Homo sapiens: one gene and its partner. The protein of the gene in region 2 interacts with the protein of the main gene of each other region in a biochemical or structural test. Each region holds a gene or a part of one and is shown on either strand. Other genes may lie near its edges.

Region 1 (3,814 bases), on a different chromosome or scaffold from region 2:
CGCGTCACCCAATGGGCGTGAGGTTCGGACACGACGGCACAGTGCAGAGCACGTGTCACCTGACAGGGGCGTGAGGTTCTCCTGCACAGAGCTGGGCACAACGGGGTTTCAAAGCCACATTTCCACATCTCTGAAAATTTCAACTCACCTCATTTCTGCCAACAATTAGAAAAAAAAAAAAAAAACAATTCTATTTTCTAGATATGCAAACAAAATTCAAACGTAAGCCTTGGCTTCCTGGCCTGAAAGGATCTGTGTGCGGTCAGCACGTCTACAGGATTCTAGAATGGATGACGTCCCCACCCCGGCGCTCTAAGCCCCGTTCCCTCCTCCCGCACCTGCCCTAGGCCCTGGGGTTTCTACCAGGGGAGAGGCACCCAGGGAGGGAGCACACGCACCTGTGATGGGCACATAGCCAACGCCCTGCTGGTACACTGTTGGCATCAGGACCACGGGCTGGGGTGGCATCACCATGGCAGCTGGAAGCAGCTGAAACACAGCGGAGATGGTCCCGGGGTCAAGGAGGAACATCCACCCATCAGAACCTCGGGAATCGCCCTCCCCACAATTGCCCTCCCCACGCCAGCCCAGAATCGCCCTCCCCATGCCAGCCCAGAATCACCCTCGCTACACGAGCCCTGAGTGCACAGGGGACGCTGGGCCCTGCTCCCACCCCTGCACCACCTCCTCAAATCCAGGAGGTGACATGGCTCGGGCTTACAGACCCCCTTCTAACTGGGATGTGACTGAGAGAGGATGGTGACAGGAGGGACATCCCAGTGTAGGTGTCGAGTCGGCCTGGGGGGAACCACACTGCACTGCTGTGGTGTCTGAGTTTGAAAGTGTCAACTTCACATAAGTCACTGCACTGCTGTCAACTCTGAGTTCAAAACTGTCCACTGTGGATAAGTCACTGCACCACTGTCACCTCTGAGTTCAAAACTGTCAACTGCGGATAAGTCACTGCACCGCTGTCGTCTCTGAGTTTAGTTCAAAACTGTCCACTGCGGATAAGTCACTGCACTGCTGTCTCCTGAGTTCAAAACTGTCAACTGTGGATAAGTCACTGCACCGCTGTCATCTCTAAGTTTAGTTCAAAACTGTCCACTGTGGATAAGTCACTGCACTGCTGTCTCCTGAGTTCAAAACTGTCCACTGCGGATAAGTCATTGCACTGCTGTTGTCTCTGAGTTCAAAACTGTCAACCGTGGATAAGTCACTGCACTGCTGTCGTCTCTGAGTTTAGTTCAAAACTGTCCACTGCAGATAAGTCACTGCACTGCTGTCTCCTGAGTTCAAAACTGTCCACTGCGGATAAGTCACTGCACTGCTGTTGTCTCTGAGTTCAAAACTGTCAACTGTGGATAAGTCACTGCACCGCGGTTGTCTCTGAGTTCGAAACTGTCAGCTGCGGATAAGTCACTGCACCACTGTCGCCTCTGAGTTCAAAACTGTCAGCTGCGGATAAGTCACTGCACCGCTGCCGTCTCTGAGTTCAAAACTGTCAGCTGTGGATAAGTCACTGCACCGCTGTCTTCTGAGTTCGAAACTGTCAACTGCGGATAAGTCACTGCACCACTGTCGTCTCTGAGTTCGAAACTGTCAACTGCAGGTAAAATCACTGGAGCGTCATGATGGTTCTGTGTTTGTATGAAAGCGTCTGTTAAAGACGTGTCATGAGACATTTACACATCGTCACTCACGGCCGGGACATGATTTAAAATATCCCAGCTTTAACAAAAAGGGGGTGGGAGGAGCCAAGATGGCCCAGAAAAGCAGCTCCCTGCTGCTGCCTCCCCGCCGCAGCCTCCCCGCCGCACCCTCCCCGCCGCAGCCTCCCCGCCGCACCCTCCCCGCCGCAGCCTCCCCGCCGCACCCTCCCCGCCGCACCCTCCCCGCCGCAGCCTCCCCGCCGCAGCCTCCCCGCCGCAGCCTCACCGCCGCAGCCTCCCCGCCGCAGCCTCCCCGCCGCACCCTCCCCGCCGCAGCCTCCCCGCCGCACCCTCCCCGCCGCAGCCTCCCCGCCGCAGCCTCCCCGCCGCACCCTCCCCGCCGCAGCCTCCCCGCCGCACCCTCCCCGCCGCAGCCTCCCCGCCGCAGCCTCCCCGCTGCACCCTCTCTGCCGCAGCCTCCCCGCCGCAGCCTCCCCGCCGCACCCTCCCCGCCGCAGCCTCCCCGCCGCACCCTCCCTGCCGCAGCCTCCCCGCCGCAGCCTCCCCGCCGCACCCTCCCCGCCGCAGCCTCCCTGCCGCACCCTCTCTGCTGCAGCCTCCCTGCTGCACCCTCCCTGCTGCACCCTCTCTGCTGCACCCTCTCTGCTGTCACATCTGCCTGGCATTTCCCACAGCACCATTTTTCAGTAACAGCCTGAAAATCCTCTGGTTGATGATACAGACGAGACGGCAGGAGCTCTGCGTCTTGGAGCCTCTAACTGGCCCTCCTGATGCCCCCAGGAGCTGCAGGTGCCCTGAGAATGGAGATGGCTGGGAGCCAGGGCGCTGACGTGCTGGCCCCACAGCCAGGCCTCGACTTCCTGACCCTGAGCACAGCAGCCCCCAGGCTTCCCCGACATCTCCAGAGATGCCCTGCCACACCACGGCCAATGCCTGCCCTGTGGGGAGGAGCCTGGTGTCCTGCAGGGCCCAGGGCTGTATCTCAGACCCTGGAGGGCTGCTCAGCTGGACCCTAAGGGCAGAGCTTGGAAGGGCTGTGGGGGTCCTCCGAGGACACAGGGGCCTGCAGTGGAGACCACCACAAAGGGTTGGCTCATCTTAGGAACACAAACAACCCCTATGCTGTTTCCCCAGACAGAGAACATGGGCAGGAGCAGTGGGCAGGGCAGCCCCTCTCTGCCACCAAACCACCCAGGGCCCCTGCCCTCTGTCCTCAGAACGTGAGCCCTGCTGTTTTATGGGCTCAGTGCCTCCAGGAAAGAGACAAGGGTGTCTGTGGGGCGGCATAGCCCCGACGTGCTCCAACATACCCCAATGCGCCCCACCCCGCCCAGGCGTGCAGCTCACCGCGTAGGACATGACGAGGTTGATCATGCCCTCCTTGTCGTCCCCCTGCCTCCCGCTCAGGCTGTACCACTTGTCCTCCACCTTGCCCTGCCTCAGGGACTCCGGGATGGTGATGTGGGTCCAGGCAATGCGGTCGTCCATGGAGAAGGCTCTCTGCGGGAGACAAGAGGGAGAGGCCCCAGGCATCAGGGAAGGGGCCACCCTGCCCCTGCAGCCGCACCATCGTGGGCCCGCCTCGAGTCCCCGTCTTATCTGTGGAACAGGGCTCCCACCTGCACCAACACCCCATCGATGAGACCCCTCGGGCAGCGCAGGCTTCACGATCGTATATCAGCCTCCGTAGGGGACTTCTTCCCTCTCTCCACCAGGATGGGCCAGGGCCAGGGCCAGGGCCAGGTCTGGGGCTGGGGAAAGCGAGGGCCCTGGGCTGCTGTCCTCCTTCAGTTCCACTTCAGGGACACTGGCTGCTCCTCCCCAGCCCTCGGGGCCCCATCCTTGCTCCACCGGCTGCCACCTGTCAAGCCCCAGAGCAGCCGGGGTGCAGACTGGAAAGGACACGGGGTCTGCCTCCCACAGCTGACTCTGCACTTCCCATGCGCTCTCTACTCTTCTGAGGGCCAGGGAGGGGAAAGCAGGTAGGGACGGGGAGAGAAAAGCCGGGAGGAAAAGGCAGGGCCCAGGCAGGGAGGGCTGGCCGTCTGCTGGCCTGGCTGCCCCACACTGCTCCCCGGCCCCCACCCAGTCTCTAGCCTCACAATGCCACAGGTGCGAGGTGCCAGGACCACACTGAGCAG
Region 2 (3,814 bases):
GTAGAATGCACCCTTTTTACATCACTCACATTAGGGCTCATACACCTCTTCCAGGACCTTTAACTGAAGGGAATCAAATGGCTGATCGCCTAGTTGCTACTGCAATATCTAATGCTAGACACTTTCACAATTTAACCCATGTTAATGCCTCTGGTCTCAAATGCAGATATAACAGTACCTGGAAAGAAGCTAAAGCTATTATCCAGTGATGCCCAACTTGCCAAATGGTGCATTCCTCATCTTTAACAGGAGGAGTTAATCCTCGAGGATTGGAACCTAATTATCTTTAGCAAATGGATGTCACACGTTCCCTCGTTTGGGAGACTAGCTTATGTACATGTATGTGTGGACACCTTTTCTCACTTTGTCTGGGCTACATGCCAATCAGGAGACTGCATGTGTTAAGCATCACCTTTTGCAGTGTTTTGTGGTGATAGGAATTCCAACTTCTGTTAAAACAGATAATGCCCCAGGCTATACTAGCCAAGCTCTAGCTACATTTTTCTCTATATGGAATATTAAACACATTACTGGCATCCCATATAATTCTCAAGGACAAACCATTGTAGAAAGAATGAATCTCTCCCTGAAACAGCAGTTGCAAAAGCAAAAAGGGGAAACAGGGATTACAGGACACCCCATATACAACTGAATCTAGCATTAATGACTTTAAATTTTTTGAGCCTGCCTAAAGGCCAGATGCTATCAGCAGCTGAAGAGCATCTACAGAAACCAGCTGCAAAAACAGAAGCAGAACAACTGGCTTGGTGCAGAGATCTGACAACAAAAAGTTGGGAAATAGGTAAAATAATAACTTGGGGTAGAGGTTATGCTTGTGTTTCTCCAGGCCAGAATCAATAGCTGATTTGGATACCATCAAGACACCTGAAACCTTATCATGAGCCAGATGCCAAGGAAGAGATTCTGGGAGGATCCCGAGGACCCTCTGGTTGCAGCCATGTCGAGACTGATGCTGAGGAGGACCCAAACTATCACGAGCAACAACCATCAAACACAGCCATCTACCTGGGGACAGATCAAGAAACTGCCATAGAGGGTGGAAGAAAACCTGAGGAAAGTGGGACAACCAGTCACAATGAGTAATTTAATGATAGCTATGATAGCAGTGATCACCATTGCCATTAGTATTCCTTCAACAAGGGCTAACACAGAGAACAATTATACTTATTGGGCATATTTATCAATCTTGGCTGGCAATAATGCCTGGATGTAATCATTCTATGACACAGTTACACATGCTTTCTGATCTCAGTATTTACCATAATAAATCTGTTTCTATAATTGAGGCATATTGCCCTCAAAAACCTATTTGTAAACAGAATTGGACCTGGCCAGAAATAATGAACATACTTGTTTGGGAAGATTGCATTGCAGAATAGGCAGAGGTGCTGCGCAGTGATTCCTATGGAATCATTATTGATTGGTCCCCTAAGGGGATGTTTAGCTTAAATTGCACCTCTCAGTCTGCGTGCCATGGCCACACTATGTTTAGCTGGTCTAAACAAAATGGTCAGATGGTAGAAATAGCAAGAAATATGGCAAGAGTTCCTATTATCTGGAAACATGATGGTATAGTGGCACCTCACCCTCAAATGATATGGCCCGCTGTAGGAGCTAAACATAAGGATTTGTGGAAACTATTAATGGCTCTTAAATAAGACCAAATTCAGGAAAGAATAAAAAAGCACCTAGAAGACACTCTACAAACTTGTCTTTCCATATTGCAATATTAAAAGAACAAATATTTAAAGCATTCCAGGCACACCAGACCTTAATGCCAGGAACTGGAGTGCTTGAAGGAGCTGCAGACAGATTAGCAGTGATTAACCCATTAAAATAGATAAAGACACTTGGAAGCTCTGTGATTTCAATGATGGTTGTGCTTTTAATCTGTGTTGTTTGTCTTTGTATAGTATGCATATGCGAATCCCGACTCCTGCAAGAAGTAGCTCACTGTGACAAAGCTGCCTTTGCTTTTATTGCTTTGCAAAACAAAAAAGGGGGACATGTGGGAACAGGCTCCCAAACCTGGCCATAAACTAGCCCCAGATTTGGCCATAAACAAAATCTCTGCAGCACTGTGACATGTTTGTGACAGCCATGACGCCCACGCTGAAGGTTGTGGGTTTACTGGAATGAGGGCAAGGAACACCTGGCCCACCCAGGGCAGAAAACCGCTTAACGTGTTCCTAAGCCACAACAATAGCATGAGCAATCTGTGCCTTAAGGACGTGTTCCTGCTGCAGACATCTAGCCAGAGCCTATCCCTTTGTTTCGGCCCATCCCTTTGTTTCCTGTAAGGAATACTTTTAGTTAATCTATAATCTATAGCGATAATGCTTATCACTGGCTTGCTGTCAGTAAATATGTGGGTAAATCTCTGTTAGGGGCTCTCAGCTCTGAAGGCTGTGAGTCCCCTGATTTCCCACTCCACACTCTACATTTCTGTGTGTGTGTCTTTGATTCCTCTAGCGCTGCTGGGTTAGGGTCTCCACGACCGAGCTGGTCTCAGCAGTCCATTGTAATTCTAAGTTACCTTTAGTAAGGCTCACACATTTCTCTAGAAAAGCACAGGTTCTTGGTCCATAATTCTTATAAATGAAATCGGCTGGAGTTGCAGATGGAGTTGTAGACTCCTTAAATCCAGATAAGCCCAGGATTCCCTGTCTTCTAGTAACCTTATCTACTTGAGGCCTCCTAGAGCACCAGTCCAGTTTCAGTTTCTTCACTGAATCCAATCCAATTCTGGAGCCAATCCATCAAAGAATTGCTCAAATAAAGTCAGAGAGCTGAAAATGCAAATGTATAGTGCTCAAGTCTGAGCAGGAACTTACCCACAACTACCAGTTGAAAGCAGTGAAAGAGCAATGGGCACAATGAGCCCCACAGGTACCTTCACTTGGTCACTAAGAGCTCCTGGGAGTCACTATAGGTCTCCTTTGGATCCTGCTTGCAACACCAAACACTGTTAAAAGAGAAACTTCAGACAAATTAAATTTGACAGAGTTTATTTTAGCAAAGAATGATTCATGAATCAGGCAGCACTCAGATTCACAAAAGTTTCAGAGAGCATCCAACAGTGTGAGCAGTGAGCTTTTATAGGCCAAACACAAGAGCATAGTAATCACCTGATTGGCTTCAGCTAGGAGTCTGCCTTATTTGGGTATGGTGTAATAGGCATTTACCTTGTTTGGGCATAGTCTGATCAGTTGGCTGCCTGTGATTGGCTAAAGCTTGGCTATTTATGATTTGGTGGAAATTTAGCTATTAATTACAAAAAAAAAGCTCCTAAGTTAGGTTTCAGTTTGTTTATGTAGTATACTAAATTAGGTTGCAGTTTATTATGTAAGAACTCAAAGTGTAGAGACAGTCTCAGGATAATGGCCTCCTGCTTATGTCATTTAACAAAAGAGAGGTCCTCAATTTTATTCCTTAGATGAGTTATTTGTACCAGCTTTTATTGTCTTGCCAGAGGTTCATCATTTTTATTAGCATTTTCAAAAAATCAACTTCTGACTTGATAGATCCCCTATTTTCTAGCACATTAATTTCTATTCTTATATTATTATTTCCCCTGTTCTGATTTCTCTGGATTTATTTTACTATTCCTTTTCCAGTTTTTAAGGTATTTGCTTGCTCATTCATTTTTCGTCACTCTTCATTTCTAATATATGCACTTAAGGTTGTAAGTTTCCTTTAAGCAACAGTTTAGGTGCATCTGACAAGTTTTTATATGTAATTTTTTTCATAAGTCATTAAAAATATTTTCTGATTTTCATTCTGATTATTTTTT

Evidence for each region.
Region 1: the proteins of TLR2 (region 2) and TOLLIP form a complex in vitro, tested with the Homo sapiens proteins (one study listed by BioGRID).

What each region holds. Positions count from the first base shown.
Region 1 is NC_000011.10:1,285,604-1,289,417, forward strand, and holds part of TOLLIP (toll-interacting protein), read right to left. Parts: intron 3,717-3,814; exon of another isoform or gene 3,293-3,716; intron 3,174-3,292; coding exon 3,021-3,173; intron 490-3,020; coding exon 399-489; intron 1-398. UniProt on the Homo sapiens protein: Component of the signaling pathway of IL-1 and Toll-like receptors. Inhibits cell activation by microbial products. Recruits IRAK1 to the IL-1 receptor complex. Inhibits IRAK1 phosphorylation and kinase activity.
Region 2 is NC_000004.12:153,687,089-153,690,902, reverse strand, and holds part of TLR2 (toll-like receptor 2 precursor), read right to left. Parts: exon of another isoform or gene 3,002-3,814; 5' UTR 2,856-3,001; intron 2,850-2,855; exon of another isoform or gene 2,558-2,849; intron 1-2,557. UniProt on the Homo sapiens protein: Cooperates with LY96 to mediate the innate immune response to bacterial lipoproteins and other microbial cell wall components. Cooperates with TLR1 or TLR6 to mediate the innate immune response to bacterial lipoproteins or lipopeptides.